2 separate regions of the Homo sapiens genome follow, and region 1 is linked to region 2. Evidence: fine-mapped QTL for protein levels in blood plasma. Region 2 holds a variant in brackets. A gene starts in the other region. All regions are shown on one strand. Distances are from middle to middle.

Region 1 (10,575 bases), 120 Mb after region 2:
TGTGTTAGGCCAGAAGTGGTGCTTCATGGAAGAGACATGGTTTCTGGCAGTGCCCAGGTGCCAGGAAAAACAGTGCCATCCTTGAAGCCAGCAGTGAGCTGGAGTCAGAGCTTTGCCCACTGGTGACTTATGAACATTTCCTTTTAGGGCAGACAGGGAGGGTCTTGTCCCACAGTGCCTCCCACTCCTCAAAGGAAGGGTGGCTCAGCTTCCTTAAGCTCAGAAGCACTAGGGACTAACCCCTCTTTCCTGACACAGCCCAACGCCCTTCTGGGTGGTTCTAAGAGGCTTCCCAACAAAAGGTTCGTATGAAGGCCCACCCTGAAGTCCAGCTGTCCCCAGAGTAGGGCTAAGGAGCCACCATACTCTCGTGTCATCTCAACCCTGCATGTCGTGTGGCTCTTCAGTGATTGCCACTCTGAAAGCTGTTCTGACTGTTCCTCACACTGCAGCCCCTCTTCCAGGGACACACATTCTTCCCCCCGCCGGGACCTTCCCTTTCTAGTCAGGCTGGTGGAGTCTCCCGCCGGCCACAGGAGGATGCCCACGCCTGCCTGCTCCCTGAGTGCCAGCGCCTGCCCACTACCAAAGGTTTCCTGCGGTGCAGAGGAGAGACTGTACTGCCCTTCCATCTCCCCTGGCCCCTTAGAGTCCAGTCCCAAACTGCCGGCACCTGCTCACAGCAGAATCCCTACCCTGTCTGTGCTGTCCCCGCAGTCCTCCTGGCCCTAGGGTGATCACACCACCTCAGCTCTTCCTGCAGACATGTGCTCAGGTGGGCAAAAGAGAATGAGAAATGCACCTCTCCCGTGGGGCTGAGCTGACTCTGGCTGTTCCCTAGGGGCTTAAGAACACCTGTTCTGGTTGAGTTTGCAGCCATCGCCTGTCCCCCAAAAGGGAAAGAGTAACATTTCACCTTGAAAAGAAACAGGGAGGGGATGTTTCTGAGGTGCAGGTGTTTCATGAGAGACAGGTACATTTTCTAAGGTGTGTCTAAAATGCAGCCCAATCCTATTCTACGAGAGAGAAGTTCCCGTTTGAACAAGTTCCCGTTTGAACAAGAGGATTCGAGGGGGGTCTCACCATCGTAGCCACGCACTAAGAAGCGATTGTTTTAGGGACACGGAGGTAGGACCCCCACTCAGCCAGGTGACTCTGGGACTGTGGAAGGTCCACTTACGACTCTGTACCTGCCCCAGCACGGGCTCAAGGAGTTGAGCCTGCACACATTACTTAGAAAAAACCTCTGCAAACGGGTAAGTACATCGCCCGCGTGGGCCGTGGCTGGAGGCTTGTCACCTGCTTCAGGGACTTCCTCGGGAGCCTCTCGCCTGCCTCTTTGCCTGGAATTAACGAATACACACTACAGCCCCTCATTCCCTCCAACACGAAGGAAAGGTGTAATCAGATCCCGAGAGTCCCGCAGAAGCGTGGAGCCTCGCGGTGCGGTCTCCCTTTTCTTTCCCATGCAAACCCACTTAGCACCGGCGCGCCCCTGTTTGCCCGGGCAGAATCCACCGCCCACTCCTCCCGAGTGGAGAGTGGAGACGAATCTACGCCCAGGCCCTGCACCTGCCGCGCTGCGGAGTTTGGAGGGGGCGTGGATGGTGCAAGGTCAGGGCTCCGTGTGTGACCCCGGCGGTGATAGGGCTGCTCGGGGTCGGACCACGCGGCGCGCCGGGCTTCCCTGCAGCTCGGCCGGGCAGGGGGCACATGGGCACGGTGGGAGTCCCGGCGGAACCCAGGCCGGCCACTCACCATTCTGGGAGGGCGACGGCGACGGCGACGGCGACGACGGCAGCAGCGGCGGCGTTGACAACAGTAGCAGCAGCGCCGAGAGCGCCAGCGCGCAGCGCATCGTGTCGTCGCCTCTGGGCCGGGAGCAGGTGGCTGCGGTGCCGGCGGAGGATCCGCGCGTCCGGGCGGTAGGAGCGTGGGCGCCGCCCGGGGAGGCCTGTGGGTGGCTCCGGAGGCCAGGCTGTGGCCCGGGGCTCCCGAGTCGCGCTGCGGCGGCTCTTCCTCCCTGCCGCTGCAGCAGAGCCGGGCTGGGGCGCAGAGCCAGTGGCAGAGGAGCGGCGGCGGCGGCGGCTGCGTCCTGGGCGGCGTCTGCGCGGCTGCGGCCCCACTGGCGGCTGCGGCTACTCCTGGCCCGTCCCGTCAGCGCCGGCCCCCGCCCCCGCCCCCGCCCCTCCCCCTCCCCCAGGAGCCCGCCAGCGGCGGCGGCCGGGCCGGGCGGGGCCGGGGCCGGGGCTGGGCGGGCGCTGGGCCGTGAACAATGAGCAGAGGAGGAAACTCCGCCCTGGAGCGCGACGGGCGGGAGGGCCGGCGGCCTCCGCGCCTTGGGGGGCTGTGTGTGCGCGGGGGCCAGGGCGGGGGGCTCCTGCGGTGCAGCCGGGCCCCGTCCACAGGTGTCCCGAACAGGTGTGTCCCCCCGAGTGCTTCTAAGTGGGCCCGGCGGGATCCCCCAGCACACCGCCGGGGCCCTCGCACTACGAGCAAATCCGGAGCGGGCGGACCCCCAGCCTTGCGTGGTAACTGATAACCATTCACGGCCTCCCGGGCTGCTGCGCGTTCTGCAGCGACCCCGGAGAAGCTCATCTCCCACCTGCCAAGTGCAATTCACCTGCCTGTGGGGCCCCCATCCCGCACGGCTTCTGAGCGGGGTCTCTCTGCAGCTAGGTGTGCAGCGGGCAAGCTGGACTAATTCACTCCTTCACCTCTCCAAGGGTAGGTTCCTTACCTGTGAAATGGAGATGATGGTTAAAAAACAACAGCAACAACAATTTCAGGGATGAATGTGTGCCAGGCTTTACATATATTAATTCTTTTACTCTTCATGACAACCATATTTTTAGCCTCATTTTGCAGACAGGGCAATTGAGTCAAAAAGAGGTTAAGAAACTTCCTGAGGCCACATAACGGGTAAGTGGCAAACCTGCCTCTGAGAGAAGTTTGGAGAAATACCGTGCACCGTGCCTGGAATATAGTAATTGCTCTGCAAGGAGTGGTTATTACTCTTATTCCTGCTATATAAAGAACAGCTATAAAGATTAGGGCTTTTGGGTCAAAACAGGCTGGGGCTCAAAACCTAACTGTGCCAATCTATTAATTGTAAAACCCTAGGCAAGCTATTCTCAGTACCTCATTTCTTTTTATCTGTAAAATAGGGATAATAACACCTACCTCAGGGGGTTGTTGGGAAACTTAAATGTGATCTTACAAGATAATACTTAGCCTAGGGCCAGGAACACAAAAGTCTCAATGAATGAAGTAGTTCGCCCTCCAAGTGAGGATCAGAGATATTTGCACACTGGGGGTGGGAGTGGGTGTTGGAGAATTCCGTAAACTGAGTTTATCCGGTGAAAGAACAAAGAAGTTCCTTTCCCCTCCCCCGCTCCCCTCCTTTTTTCCACCCCCAAAGCTGCCTGGGAGACGCAGACCCCAGGCCCGCCTGAAGAGGAGGCACATCGGCGGAGCCGGGAAGCGGAGGGGGCGAGGGGTGATTAACCTTGGAACCCGGGTACGGCGTAAATTTGGCTCACGTGACTCCGGGGTTGCTAATCTGGAGTCTATCTGCCAGATGGGGCTGGGTGGAGGGGTTTTCTCCAGGATCTAGCCGCGTCCCGGGCACAGGGGACTCCGTGAGCCCCTCAAGTCGGCTGCAAGCAGGCGATGCCTGCAGGGCACTGCGTCCCTGGAGCCGCGAAGGAAGCGCTGGAGCCCTGGCTGGGGTTCCGTGGCAGCCGGCCTCAAGCTTGGGAAGGGCTGACGGGGTTGTTTTCATCAGGAAGTTTCTGCAGGATCGTTCTGGCCCCGTTTTCCACACCGCATATGGGAAAGACAGAGGGTGTTCCCTATGAATACTCTGGGATATTTGTGTGTGTGACTATCTTTGATGTTTTTTTAGTACTGTTCCCCTGATATCATGTCAACAAAAGGCTTGTTTCTCTTCTGAAACCAAGCAATATATATATATATTTTTTTTTACACTGGGATTTTAAAAAATGTGTATCGCACTCTGATTTAAACAGTGTTTTTGCACTCAATCATTCAATTTATCTAAAAACTCAGAAGCAATCATGTTAACTTTATAAAGAGAGAGCGTATATTTTGAAGCTTAGGGCATTTTAAATTCACATGATTTGGGATTGGTGCCATTACAAGATCATGCAAAATTAAAATGAGAGCAGACATCTGGGCTTAGAGAAGACATAGAAAAGTTACAATTGTGCTGGACTCTCCCCAGTATCCAACAGCCCCCCTCAACTTATGCACAACGTGGCTTTCTGGAATGAGGCTGGCTGGGTTTTGAGGTCACTGGTGGCCACTGAGATGAGCTACCCCCAGGTAACTGGCCTGTGCCTTTGGCCCCATTTAGCATTGTGCTCTAACTAGCAAGCTCGCCAGCCCAGAACACCTGAGCTTATATTTGAAACCCAAAGCACTTTATGGGTGCTGTTTTTGAAGCTTTTCATCAGGAAGTTTCTGCAGGATCATTCCTTCTGGGATTTGTTGCATTTTGGTTATTTGTATACATGCGTTAGCTCTCCTAGCAGACATTCAGCTTCTTTAACATGGCGTCTTTCTTATTCATCCTTTACTTACTCAGACCACCAAGAACAGCACATCACTTTTTTTTTTTTTTTTTTTTTTTTGAGACAGAGTCTTGCTCCTGTTGCCCAGGCTGCCTCCGCCTCCCAGGTTCAAGCAATTCTCCTGCCTCAGCCTCCTAAGTAGCTAGGATTACAGGCATCTGCCACCACACCCGGCTAATTTTGTATTTTTAGTAGAGACGGGGTTTCTCCATGTTGGTCAGGCTGGTCTCGAACTCCCGACCTCAGGTGATCTGCCCGCCTCGGCCTCCCAAAGTGCTGGGATTACTGGCGAGAGCCACCGCATTTTTATCAAGCAAATGGTTTTGCTGCCCCATGGGCACAGAAGCCAATACTATGAAGCACTAGCTTTGGAAAAAGCAGCGGCTTTATTTGCAAAACTGGTCAGCAAAGAGACAGGAGTGAATTCAAATCTGTCTCCCCAGCCAGGCACGGTGACTCATGCCTGTAATCCCACAACTTTGGGAGGCTGAGGTGGGCAGATCACCTGAAGTCAGGAGTTTGAGACCAGCCTGGCCAACATGGTGAAACCCCATCTCTACTAAAAATACAAAAATTAGCCAGGCTTGGTGGCATGCGTCTGTAATCCTAGCTACTCAGGAGGCTGAGGCAGGAGAATTGCTTGAACCTGGGAGGTGTAGGCTGCAGTGAGCTGAGATTGCACCACTGCACTGCAGCCTGGGCAACAGAGCAAGACTCCATCTCAAAAAAAAAAAAAAGAAAAAATGTCTCCCCAGTTTGAGGCCTGGGGTAAATTTATGGGATCAGAAGGCAATGAAAAGATTTAGGAATGTTGGCTTGGCAGAATCTGATTGGAGGGCTTTAAATTTGACCATTTACAGAAAGGTATGTTGAGGCGGACTTTTAGCCCCACATCTTCCAAGCCATTGTACGTCTGGCTTCTGAGAGAGTTCTGGCATTCGGATTCCCATCAAGTCTCTTAGTCTTTTTAGTTCCAAGGGAGAATTCATTGTTTTGGGGTTGTTGTTAGAGTTCCAACTATTTTCTATTGCTTATGCTGGAGCAACGTGACATTTTGTTATCAACAGAGCAAGCCCAGTTTGGGCCTTTCCCTCAGTTACAACATCATACATATAGATACAGATACAGATCTATAGATACAGATCTTGAATGCAAATATGAATGTCACCTGGAAGATATTACGCAGGAACCCATGGCACAAGGTTACACATTTTTCCATGGCCCCTGGCTGTCAATGTTAGGGGCCATAATTCTCTGCCCCAGGTGCAATTTGGTGATGTTGTTTACCTAAGTGCATCCTTATGTGCAGACTCAGTAAGTCCTCTTGACCCTCATTCTAAGTAATACTGATCCCCAGTCACAACATCTAGGGGTGAGACAAAGCGTCCGCTACCACATCCCCCAAGAAAAGATGAGTGCACACATGTATCCATCCTGGAGCCACAGCTCCTACACATAAGGAGCCAGGGATGCTCTTACCTGGGCTTTCTAATCACTGACCTCTGAGTTCCTTGTGGGTCGAAGCAGTGTTTAATTCATCTTGGAATCCAGTGCCCAGTATGGTGGTGTCTGACCCCAAACAGGTGCATGACATTCAAATGCTGCATAGATGAAGAAGTGGTTGGATTTTCTCTCCAAGGTTGGGTTACCCCTGACTGCCAAGTGGTGCGGTTCTATGAATATCAGCTGGGACTCAAGTTGGGCAGCTCACCCCAAAGTCATGCCTTTATGTATTATTATTCAATAATATCTACCCTAATAGGCAGAGTGTGCTAGGTTCGGTGCACTGTGCTGAGAATGCAACCCTGTACACAAACATGACTAACATGTAGTAGGGGCTGTAACACATGGCACGGGTGGGCATGTGGGAAGCGGAGAGCAGGATGGCTCAGCCCCACCCGGGGAGGTCAAGGAAGGCTCCAGAGGAGGGAACTGGGTTTTGGAGGAGTTGAAGGACTTCACCAAGGGAAGAGTGAAAGGGAAGGCTTTTTGGGCAGATGGAACAAGATCTACAGGTATTTCGCCCTCAGCAGAGCATAGGATTTGTCAGGATGATGGGAGATGAGGATTGGAAGGTGGGTAAAGGTGAGACGCTTAGACAATGAAGAGTCACTACAGGGTTTTAGCTTGAACGGGCAAGACCAGCTTTTCTTTTTTTTTTTTGTTTTTTTTTCTGAGACAGAGCCTTGCTTTGTCAACCAGGCTGGAGTGCAGTGGCGCGATCTCGGCTCACTGCAACCTCCACCTCCCAGGTTCAAGCAATTCTCCTGTCTCAGCCTCCCGAGTAGCTGGGATCACCGGCGCATGCCACCAAGCCTGGCTAATTTTTTTTTGTATTTTTAGCAGAGATGGGGTTTCGCCATGTAGGCCAGGCTGGTCTTGAACTCCTGACCTCATGATCTGCCCGCCTCAGCTTCCCAAAGTGCTGGGATTACAGGTGTGAGCCACCGTGCCTGGCCCCAAGACCAGCTTTTCATGAGAGAAAGCCGCAGTGGGCTTAGCAAGGGCAGGCTGATGTGAGGCGGAAGGTGAGCACAGCATTTGGGGAGGCTAGTGCAACTGTCCCTAAAGGGCCTGCCCTCAGACAGTGGTGGTGGGAAAGAAGAGAAGGGCCTGATGCAAGAGGTGTCTGAGGGGTAGCATTGATACAGGACTCAGTGGCCCATTGGATGGGGACATGGTGTGTGGGCTGGTGTGTGTGGTGTGTTGAGGGCAGAAAGACACGGCAGGACTGCATGAATTATCTGAGTGCCATGGTTGGAGGGAGAGTAAATGAAACAAACTGTGATGGAGAATATAAGAAGAGAAGCAAATGTGGGAGAAGAAAATGATGGGTCCAGTTTCAAACAGGTTGACTCTGAAGACCCATGACCACATCTCAAAGTTATATCCAAGACAAGACTCAGGGGCTATGTCTAGAAGTTCTTTCCTTCCCCCCCGCCCCCCAATAAATAGAGATGGGGTCTTGCTGTGTTACCCAGGCTGCTCTCAAACTCCTGGCCTCATGTGATCCTCCCAGCTTGACCTCTCAAAGTGCTAAGATTACAGATGTGAGCCACCACACCCACCCTAGAAGTTTTATCTGTGACAGTAAAGCTCAGACCTAAAGTCAGGACTGGAAATGGAGATCCGAGAACCATAACCAAGCAGATGGGGTTGTAGCCATGACTGTAGATGATGGGCCAGGAATATTCTGCAGTGGAGAAGAGAAGAGGCTGAAGGCAGAGCCCTTCAAAATATCAACATTAAGGAATGGGCATAGGAAGAGGATATGGAGAATGTATTGCTGAATAGAAAGTCAACCAAAAGAGAAGGGACCCATAGAAACGGAGGGAGGAGAATGTTTTAATAAGAACAAGGTGGTCAAAAGTGTCACCTGCTCCAAGGACTGAAATCTACCAGCTGAAGTTTACAATGAAAGGGTCCTTGGGGATCTTACCCAGGGTGATTTTAGTGAAGTGCAGTAACTGAAGGGAGAGAATGGAGATGAGGAAATGGAGGCAGCGAGTGTGGATGGGAAGGGAAGGAGGGAGAACATGGAGTCAAGGGAAGAGTTTGTGTGCATTGGTTCATTTAAAAATTGGAAATGTGTAGGCCGGGCGTGGTGGCTCATGGCTGTAATCCCAGCACTTTGGGAGACTGAGGTGGGCAGATCGTTTGAGCCCAGGAGTTCGAGACCAGCCTGGCCAATGTGGTGAAACTTCATCTCTGCACAAAATGTAAAAATTAGCCAGGTGTGGTGGCACATGCCTGTAGTCCCAGCTATTCAGGAGGCTGAGATGAGAGGATCGCTTGAGCCTGGGAGGCAGAGGTTGCAGTGAACCAAGATCGTGCCACCTCCACCTGGGTTACAGAGTGAGACCCTGTCTCAAAAAATAAAATTAAATTTAAAAAAATTGGAAATGTGTACATGACTGTGGGCCAAGAGGAAGACAATAATTGAAAGGGAGAAGTTACAAGAGATGGGGTGAGAAGCAGAGATAGAAGGACTAATCTCAGGCCAAGGGAACTTCGTCACTGAAGGTATGGATGGAGATGCAGTTTGTCATGGTTGATAGGAATAGCCTTGGAATGAGTCAGCCCAGAACTTCATCTTTGCTTTGTGACTTAGTAGCCATGTGATTTTGAGCTTTTACTTAACTTCTGTGAGCCCGAGTCTTCCCCTCTATGAAATAAGTAACATCAATTTTGCAGAATCTCTGTGAGAATTTGTGTGTGGGGGGGATGCACAATGCCTAGCTGGTGCACAATAAATACATTTAAAAAGTAAAACTTTGTGTCCACAGCAGAGCTCCAAGGCCCATGTGATTCCTGCTGCATTCACTCCGGTGAGGAGCCTGCTCTTCAGCAGGCGTTTTTCTTTTGGACGCTCTTCGCCGTGGGTTGGAAGAGCAGGTCATGCCCTGGCGCAGCAGGAAGAGAGGGTTTTCCACAATGGCTGCATCCATTGCAGGCCAGAGCTGTGGGTTGCAAAATTGGGGTTGTCCCTCCTGCTCGGATGTAATGGAGTTACCTGAACGTGGGCCCTTGGGACCAGGCCTAGCACCTAAGAGAGAGCTGAAGGCTCAGCAGATGTTAGAGAGCACTTGACCCAATGTGGGAAGAAAGCAGAGTCCTAGAGAGTGGAGGTGAAGTCCTCATTCACTCAACTCGTCAACAGCGCAGGTTCCAGAACCAGCTTAGAACTCTAGCTCCTGTTCTAACAGCCCATTGCATGCATCTGTGTCCCACAGCTGTTGGTCTTACAACTCAAAAAAGCACAGGTCCCCTGGCAGGTGCAAAAGAAAATGTGCCATGGAGATGAAACTGGGGGAGGGAGTTACGAGTCAATTACTACTTATGTTGAACTAAAAGAAGCCCAAGGCATCAGCTTCGGCTCAGTCTTCTCCATACACCCCAAGCTGCTTTCCATTCTCACTCAGCCCCTGACTATTCCTCCCATTCCCCTGCCCAGTACAATAAAAACAGCATGCAGTTAGCTTCCTCCACCCCGGAGGCTGACCAGGACCAGAATCAGCACTTGGATAGTACTGCATGGAATTTTGCCTGTATTCTGGGCATGGTGCTGAACGCTTTACATTCCTAACATAATTTAATCTTCATACATCTGGAAAGGTAAATATATTACCATGATCCCATTTTACAGATGAGCAGATGAAAACCTTATTTCCCTAGGATAACCCGAAGATAGAAATGTGTATTACTCTGTTTTCACATTTGCTAGAAGAAAAACTTCAGGCTGGGCGTGGTGGCTCACGCCTGTAATCCCAGCACTCTGGGAGACCGAGATGGGCAGATCACTTGAGGTCAGGAGTTCAAGACCAGCCTGGCCAATATGGTGAAACACCATCTCTACTAAAAAATACAAAAATTAGCTGGGCGTGGTGGCAGGTGCCTGTAGTCCCAGCTACTGAGGAGGCTGAGGCAGGAGAATCGCTTGAACCCAGGAGGCAGAGGTTGCAGTGAGCCGAGATCACACCACTGCACTCCAGCCTGGGTGACAGGGTGAGACTCCATCTCAAAAAAAAAAAATATATATATATATATATGTATATAGATAGATAGATAGATAGATAGATAGATAGATAGATAGATAAAGAAAAACTTCAGCTGAATTAAATTTAAAGGAGTTTGATTGAGCAATGACCGATTTGCAAATTGGGCAGCCCCCAGAATCACAGCAGATTCACAGAGACTCTAGTGCAGTCACGTGGTGGAAGAGGATTTATAGACAAAAAAAGGGAAATGACGTATAGAAATTGGAGGCGAGGTACAGAACAGCTGGATTGGTTACAGCTTGGTGTGTTTGCCTTATTTGAACACAGTTTGTACACTCAACATTAGATGAATGGTTGAAGTATGGCCGCTGGGATTGGCCAAGACTTGGCTACTGTTACAGGCACATACTCCTAAGTTAGGTTTTCAATTTTGTCTGCCTGTTAAGCTAGGTTACAGTTTATCCACAAGGACTCAAATATAG
Region 2 (8,759 bases):
ACAAATGAACTTCAATGCAGATTCTAGCCAACATAAAGGTATGGTTTACTTTATTAAGCAGTAAACATAAGCAGTATTTTAGTCTAAATTTTGTCATATTCCTGTCTGTATCTGTTAATTAAAATGGGCTATATATTCCAGATATTAAAAATAATTCTTGGTTTGCCTCAAGAGAAGGGAATTGCTAAAACTCAGATTTATTTAGGGAATAAGATATTAATTTTGAATTCGTTTTTAAGTAGAAATAGTTCAGAACCCATGATTTGGGGAAGGGCATAACTATTCAGATTTGATTTGTTTCTGAAAATGTTTTTCTAGGTTCAGTTTTGTTATATGTGTGTCTTTGGTTTTTGTTACTTGTTTTGGTCATAGCTTTTGCTTAAGTCTTGTTTTCCTAGAGAAACTTGAGGTGTATGTAAGTTTCGATTTATATTTTTATAATTAGTTAATA[G/T]AACTAATCTTTTTTTTCCTCAAGAGGCACAAAGAACAAGGAAGTTAAAAACCAAGGATGCGTTCTAAAGACTTCATTTTCTCCTAGCCTCCTACCTCTAACCAGATTTTCTCAGTTGAGTTATTTATGTGTCCCTTAAGTGTTGGTTCTCTCCAAGTTTCTGTCCTTTAGCTGTTTGTCTGTGTGACATCATTAACCCGCATAATTTTAATTTCCTTCTATTTCTTACTGTCTTTAGCCCAGTTCCAGACATTGTGAGGTGACATTAACACAATGCAAAATACGGTTTGACAGAAAATAATATAAGTAGCTTGAAAACAATTGGAATTCTGGGATGCAGAGGGTCCACTATTCAGTTTTTTCTCTTCTCTTCTCAGTAGTAAATTATTTCTTCACCACCTCTCAAGCAGAGGTTGAATGGTGAGATTTCAAAGCCTGGTTCCATTTTATCAACTAGCAAACATAAACATACTATTACAAAGTATGTCGTGTTTTGTGATTGTTTATGTAACAGTAATTCAGCTCTGAGCAAGTGCTCTGTGTTCCTACAGAACAGTTTGGTCACTGTGTATTTGCTCTGTAGCATAGCCACATGTCTTTAGGTGATCAATTGGAGGCAGAGTTCCCTACTAATAGTAAGCCGTACGAGGCCTCACTGCAGGCATGTGTATTAGATACATACTTGTCCAGCTCAGTGGCCTACAAAATGTGGGGTATGCTAAAAGTTTGTCTACTCCCTTCAGACTCAGCATGTGTAAATTGAGTCTCCTTTTCCTTCCTACTCCTAGAAGTTGCTCTTCCTCCTCTATTCTTTCTTTTATATGGCTCATTACCATCTGTCTGTGCCAGAAATTAAGAAATCATGGTAGGTGCTTGCCTTCACATGCTAGCCAATTCGATTTGTCAGTACATTCTAACAGTGCTGCTACTTTACCATTTTTCATCTCTTTTCCTCTCAGTCCTCAGTGCATTTCCGATTCAGGCCTTCAGCTATACCCATGTACCTGCACTCAACCAAACTTCACCATTCCTTTTGGTGAACTTATAACCTATTTTCTGTATTATGTCTTTATTTTTTAATCTTCCTCTTTGTTCTACCTAGGTCCCTATCTACTGCTCTGTAGGATTTATTAGCCACTATTTTCCTTCAGCACATTGAATCCTTTGTTCATACCTCTATAATAACATCTCTTAGTATTTAGCAATTATTGGTTTGTGTGTCAGGCTCAGGCTCCCTGAATGGACTGAATTCCTCTGCAGCAGGAAATGTGTCTTACTCATTTTTTTCATCTCCTATGCCAGCCCATGCCCAGTACAAAGCAATTAGTGAATGAAAAATTATTTATCAAGTTCAGCGGTGGACAAACCTGTCTTACCTGAATGAAACAGATTGGGGATTCCTGCATTCACTGTTCTATCCATTCAAGGTTTGGTATATTTGTATAGCCAAGAGATTGGGCTCCTCAAGGATATGAGATGTCTATGCTTTCTGACTGAAAGTAGGGTGATTTTGTCTGCTGTTGTCCTTTTGGATTGTGAATCTTGATACTCAGAGGGACATGAGAATTTTTATTTTTTATTTTTTTTGAGATGGAGTCTCGCTCTGTCACCCAGGCTGGACTGCAGTGGTGGGATCTCGGCTCACTGCAACCTCCGCCTCCCGGGTTCAAGCAATTCTCCTGCCTTAGCCTCCCGAGTAGCTGGGATTACAGGCGCCCACCACTACGCTTGGCTAATTTTTTGTATCTTTTTTAGTAGAGACAGGGTTTCACCATGTTGGCCAGGCTGGTCTCGAACTCCTGACCTCGTGATCTACCCGCCTCAGCCTCCCAAAGTGCTGGGATTACAGGCCTGAGCCACTGTGCCCAGCTGGGACATGAGAATATTTTTATGTTCCACCCAGCTTTTCCCATTATTCCCTCTCAGTTGGTTAACTAGTATATTATATGCCTCCATTGTTAATTTCTCATAGGACTAAGCTTCTGTAACTTGCTGTTTGACCTTAATTTTAAGCATATGCTTCGTCAGGATACTGCCCAGAACATTGCTACTGAAAGTCAGTTCATAGACTCATTCTGGTCCTATAACTAAAGAATGTCTGCTTATTTGGGAGTAAGCAGAAACTTTTATTGTAATTGGAGTAATTTTGTCTGAAGCTAAAAATAAAAATTTAGGACTTGTTTTATATTTTAGTTTTATTTTTCTTATAATTCATTTTTATCCTATTTACACAGTGTAGACCTCTTTTAGAAATAAAAATTGGCCTTTCACCACAGATAGCTTGGGAAGTACTCATCTAGAATCTCATCATTGAGCTCTTCCTCTGTACCGGTGCTACTCAAAATGCGGTCCTGGCCTGACACTTTGTCAGCTGTTTGTCTGCACAAGATAATGAGGTTACACTAGGATGTAAATCAGTTTTACGCTCACTGCTTACTTAAATGGACAGTTTTAAGTTTCAGTTTTAAGCTCACTGCTTAGTTAAGTGGACATTTTGATTGGTTGGTTCTGATAGTAGGCCTTTTTCAAAGTAATGTGTTGCTTTCTGTTCTGGTATAAGCTCCTTATTTCTTTGCAAACCTGTAGTTTAAAGAGCACTGCTCTAGACCATCTTGGAATTCCCATGTCTACCATTGTTCTCTTCTGTTTTTGATTGGTGGATTTACATTTTGGAATGAGGTATGTGACTATCAGAAAGTAATCTCAACTCCTGTGCTTTGACCTTTTACCACCTCAGGGTACTTGTAGAAATTCTTAATAGTGGATTATTGTGAACTTCAAAAATGAACTGCCACTTCAGCAGCATGTCTTTCCTGCTCTTCAGAAACTCGTTCAGAGCAGTGAGAAATTTCTGTCAGTAATCTATTAAAAACTGGCTGCTTTCTTTTATGAAGTGCCAAGCAGAGACTATTTAAGGCAGCATTTAGCATGCCTATGAAGCACCAGGAGAACTTATTAAAATGCTGATTCTGAGTCAGTAGGTCTGGGCCTAAGATTATGCATTTCTAACAGGCTCCCAGGTGATGCTGCTGCTTTTAATCAGTAAACTACAGTTTGAGACGAATTTAGATTATAATGTCAACTCTTACTAGCTCCAGTGATGTCCTAGATAACACTGACATGAAACCAATAAATCAGAGTGTCAGTTCACATTAGGATGAGTTTGCTTTCCTTTGGCTAAATCACTAATAGAGGGATAAATAGGGACTTTGAAATTAGGACAGTGCTTTCTTCAGTATAATTTATTAATATTTGGATTTTACATCTATGTAAATAACCTTTTAAAATGTTTTGTTTAATAGATGAGAACACAGACATTGCTGAAAACCTCTATCAGAAAGTTAGAATTCTTTGCTGGGTTATGACCGGCCCTCAAAACCTAGAGAAAAAGGCCAAACACGTCAAAGCTACTTGGGCCCAGCGTTGTAACAAAGTGTTGTTTATGAGTTCAGAAGAAAATAAAGACTTCCCTGCTGTGGGACTGAAAACCAAAGAAGGCAGAGATCAACTATACTGGAAAACAATTAAAGCTTTTCAGTATGTTCATGAACATTATTTAGAAGATGCTGATTGGTTTTTGAAAGCAGATGATGACACGTATGTCATACTAGACAATTTGAGGTGGCTTCTTTCAAAATACGACCCTGAAGAACCCATTTACTTTGGGAGAAGATTTAAGCCTTATGTAAAGCAGGGCTACATGAGTGGAGGAGCAGGATATGTACTAAGCAAAGAAGCCTTGAAAAGATTTGTTGATGCATTTAAAACAGACAAGTGTACACATAGTTCCTCCATTGAAGACTTAGCACTGGGGAGATGCATGGAAATTATGAATGTAGAAGCAGGAGATTCCAGAGATACCATTGGAAAAGAAACTTTTCATCCCTTTGTGCCAGAACACCATTTAATTAAAGGTTATCTACCTAGAACGTTTTGGTACTGGAATTACAACTATTATCCTCCTGTAGAGGTAAGTTTAGAAATTTTATTACTATGTCAATACTTGGACTGACTGAATTTTGTTGATAAAAACATGTTAATATGTGTATGTTTCTTTAGTACCAACAACAAGGACTCTTCCTTAGTCTTTTTAAATAGAGTGGCAGTATAACAAAATAGATGAGAACAGGGACATCAGCAATCAGCAGTAGTCACTTAGCAAATAGCTATTGATGCTGTTATATGCCAGGCACTGAGAATGTAGAAGTAAATCACAGCCAATTTCCAGTTCTCGTGAACCTTACATTCTGGATGAGGAGATATACAGTAAACAGGCAGACTTGTAAATATAAAATAGGATTTTAGTAGTAAGTGCCCTGAAGAAAAATAAGCCAAGTAAGGGGATGGAGAGTGACCCAGAGTGGGATGGAGTCCTCTGGTTTGGGTGATTAAGAAGGCCTCTCAAAGAGGTGACTTTTGAGCAGAACCCTGAGTGTTATTAGAGAGCAAGTTGGGTGAAGATCTGGGTAAAGAGCCTTCTAGTCATCAGGAGGATTTAATGGAGGTTCAGAAAGACCTAGAGTCAAATCCTGCTCTCTCACTTAATAGCCGAACAACCTTGGATGGACAGGAGCCTTGGATGACATCTGAGCTTCAGTTTCCTCATTTGTAAGATGGACATAATGTACCTGTCTTATTTAGTTGTTGTAATTACAACATAGTACAGCCCTTCACACAGTAAGCATTTAATAAGCCTTGGCTCACATTCCTGAGAATTTTATCTAAAGTGCATTATTTTAGGAAGTATTCCAGTAGTACAAATATTTCAGAATATACATTGTACTTATCCCCTGTCTTTACCAAATATTAATCTTTTTGCCACATTTGTTTCAGTTATTTAAAGAAGAAAATGCTATAGTATTGTTTTTCAGATTTTTAAATAAATATCTTTCTACAACTTGCCCTTTTCACACAACATTGAGATTTATCAATGTTAATTACATGTCTGCTGTGTTCACTATTATAAGCATTGCTTCAGTGAATAACTGAATGAGACCAGGAATCATGGAACCTAGCTTTTAGGCTCAGTTCTGTTACTAATAATGCCTTTAGGCAAGTCACTAGTTCTCTATGCCTTCTTTTCTGTGGACCTAACGTATAAATAATACACTTCATGCTACTACTGTCATCTTCATAAGGCAATGCTTTCAAATCATCATCTGGAACAGTGATTCTCAACCCAGGGCAATTTTGCCCCCAGAGGACATTTGGCAAGGTCTGGAGACATTTTTGGTTGTTACAGCTAGGAGGCTGCTACTGGCATCTAATGGGTAGAAACCCACTACATTATAAACCTACTAAATGCTAAACATCCTAAAATGCACAGGACAGCCTCCTACAACAAAGAATTACTCTAGCCCAAAATGTCAGTAGTACCATGGTTCAGAGACCCTGGCCTAGAACATCTGACCCAAGCTTTAGGTAATCAGCTTTAAAAGGAAACTTTTGATAGTCTGTTTTTCTATTTTAGTGAGAGTACTACTTTGGATGCTTTTTTGATGTAAACTTTTCTTAATATATTTTGACCATTCCAAGATGACTTGATCTTTTTTCCTTAATTCTGTATCCTTTTCCCATATAAAAAATTTACCCAAATTCAAGAATATAAACATGTAGCAAATACATCCAAATGCATATAAGATCTTACTAAGAGTATCTGATGTTGGATACACATACAGTAGTAGCAAAGGGACATCATAATTGGCAAATTTGTTCTTTCTCTAGAAATTTATCAAATTATGTTGAAGACCATAAAACAGAATTAGAATTCAGAGTACCAAAATTGACCCATCAATCTGACATTGCCTGTTCTCCCTCAGGAGATTCTTACATAAACCCAACGTGAAACTAAAATTCTATTATTATCCATCTATCATTTAGTAAGTTTTCTTCCCCCTAAATGAGTTTAAATCTTATACATACTTTTTTTTTCTATATACTAATTACTGAAAATACAGAAAATTTTTATCTAGCAAGTCAGGGTAAAAGATATTCTAATTCATGAAAGAGTTACATTCCTAAATTTCTTGTTCAGAACTGACTCTTAAGCAGTTCCCTTCCCACTCCACCTTCTTAGTAATAGACTTTTCACCAGAGAAGTTGCAGTGAGTCTTAATATGGTAGATTTAAAATATATGTGTAATTGTTTACATATATATCTCTCTACATGAAAAATTGACTTTTCTGTAGGTCAGAAATGGTCAAATATGATCTACTTTATTCAGTTTTATTTACATTATTCTATCTGAAACATATTAGTACATAAGTGAGGTAGAGAGCTCCTGATTTTTTTAAATTGTTAACTAATTATTCTACTACCATTTTTTAACTCATTACTGATTTAAAATGTCCCCCTTATCATACACTGTAACCTTACTTATAGTAGGATCTAAATCTGGGATTTCATTTCTATGCCATTGTTCTCATTTGATTTTGGCCCAGCACCATATTGTTTTGAACCTTGTAGCTTTACAGCAGTTTTAAGTTACTATTCTAAGGGCAAATTAACTCTTCTTTTTTTCTAAGTGTTTTGGCAACTCATTTCTTTATCTTTGCATACAAACTCATTAATTTAGGGACAATAACATCTTTGCCCAGGATTTTTTGTAAGTCACCTTTTAGGTCCTTTGGTCAAGTTTTATAAACTATTTCCATAGGTATGCAATATTTTTGTTACTGTTCTACTTGGGCTTTTAAAGACTTAACTTTTTACTGATATATATGAAAACTTATTTGTTTGATTTTCTTTTTAAGCATCTTTAAAATCTGGCTTTGTAACTGAATTCTCTATTTCTGATGATTCTTCACTTGAGATTCTTGAGTTTTTTTGGGTAACCATAATTGTCTGCTAGCTCTTGTTTTCTAATAATTATAGCTTTTTACTTTTATTGTCTTTTATTGCATAAATGCTTAACAGAATCCTGGCCATCCAGTAAAATATAAATAAATAAGAGCAATATAATTAATGCAGTAAATCTTATCAAAAATATTATTTTACAGAATATAAAAATTGCTTCCAGAGGTCAGCAATTTATAACTATTACTGGTCTAGTCCTTAAGTTTAATATGCACTGGACAGTATAGTAGCCACTAAGTATGTGTGGTTATTGAGCACTTGAAATGTGGCTAGTCCAAATTGAGATATGCTGTAAATAAAATACACACCTAATTTCAAGAAAGGTTTCATTAATCATCGCAAAACTATTGCATGTTAAAACAGTATGATGAACTTTTTCAGTTAAATAAAATGAAATTTCACTTTTTTTTTTTTTTTTTTACATTTTTTATGTGGCTACTATATGGCTTACATATCTGTTGGACAGAGCTAGTTTAGATAATCACAAGTTGACTTATCTGGTTATTTTTCCTATTTGCTTTTATTCTGATATTTCCTAAAGGTGCAAGAGTAGGTTGTCTAAGAATCTACATATCCAGTGTGTGTTTCAAAGGAAAGTTTAGAGATAACAGCAGAGAAAACGCAGTGGACAGTTTGATAATTTTTACACACTGTAAGCTACATACTTCCAAACATAAATTATTAGATTTATTAAATATTCAGTCAATATGAATCTTCTCTTGGAACTTGCCAGACTATCTCCCTCATTCTTTACAAAGATGTCAGATGGAGCCTGAAGTTTTGTTGGAGTCACCTGGATGACACCAACATTCTCCAGATACCAATTCTGACTCTAGGTTGACTGCTTAATTCATCTCTTTTTCTGTCTTCTTAATTTTCTTGCTTTCTTGTTCGTTGTATTGTTGTTGTTTTATTTTAAACTTTGTTCTCATACCAACCCTATTAGGAATTTATGAGAATTACATAACTGGACAAAGGTTTAAATCTGACCTACCTTAGGGCCACCTGATATGATTTTTCAGTCAATAATAGCTAACATTTATTGGGCATTTATTTTAAGCAAAGGGTAATTTACACACATTGTCTCCTTTAAATAACCACCTTTTACAAATGTGGAAATTAAAGCTTATAGAGATTAAATAACTTACTCAAGGTCGTATACTAGCCCACAAAATTTGGGTTCAAACCCAAGTCTAGGTTGAGAGCTTTGTCTCAAATACTGTACTGTTTGGGTTGATACATATATAGATGAAGTGTATTGGGTTGTAGACACCTAATGGGCAAGGCTTTGTAGTCATTGAATGCCCTAGAGGTATGTTTCCGAGTATGAGCCACACAAAAAATTACAGTGAGAAAATGAGGAAGAGAAAGCAGATGTTGGAGAAGGAGATTTCTCCTTGTATAGCTGCTCCTTTGATTTGAAGAAATCTCAGTAATTTTATCCGCTAAAGA

Alleles and levels. Positions count from the first base shown, and alleles are read on the strand shown. Strength reflects both the effect of a copy and how common the allele is.
For the plasma level of the protein whose gene starts at base 2,127 in region 1, allele T in region 2 goes with a lower level than allele G (moderate association).

Evidence for each region. PIP is the chance, under the fine-mapping model, that this variant and not a neighbour inherited with it causes the effect. Protein levels are from antibody-based Olink assays in UK Biobank. Linkage for the fine-mapping came from a reference panel and not from the study's own genotypes, which makes the PIPs less certain.
Region 1: PODXL starts here. The variant in region 2 is fine-mapped to the plasma level of the PODXL protein (UK Biobank, PIP 0.91).

What each region holds. Positions count from the first base shown.
Region 1 is chr7:131,554,502-131,565,076 of GRCh38, forward strand. PODXL (podocalyxin like) reads right to left here and starts at 2,127. Exons shown (of 9, transcript NM_001018111.3): 1 at 1,759-2,127. The coding sequence starts at 1,858. RefSeq lists silencers at 1,748-2,257, 2,338-2,397, 2,428-2,547 and an enhancer at 2,515-3,062.
Region 2 is chr7:7,234,502-7,243,260 of GRCh38, forward strand. It overlaps C1GALT1 (core 1 synthase, glycoprotein-N-acetylgalactosamine 3-beta-galactosyltransferase 1), which reads left to right. Exons shown (of 4, transcript NM_020156.5): 2 at 1-38; 3 at 3,754-4,421. Among named protein-coding and RNA genes, the nearest start is that of LINC03016, 16 kb to the right of the region's middle. The variant G/T (reference allele first, on the strand shown) is at 452.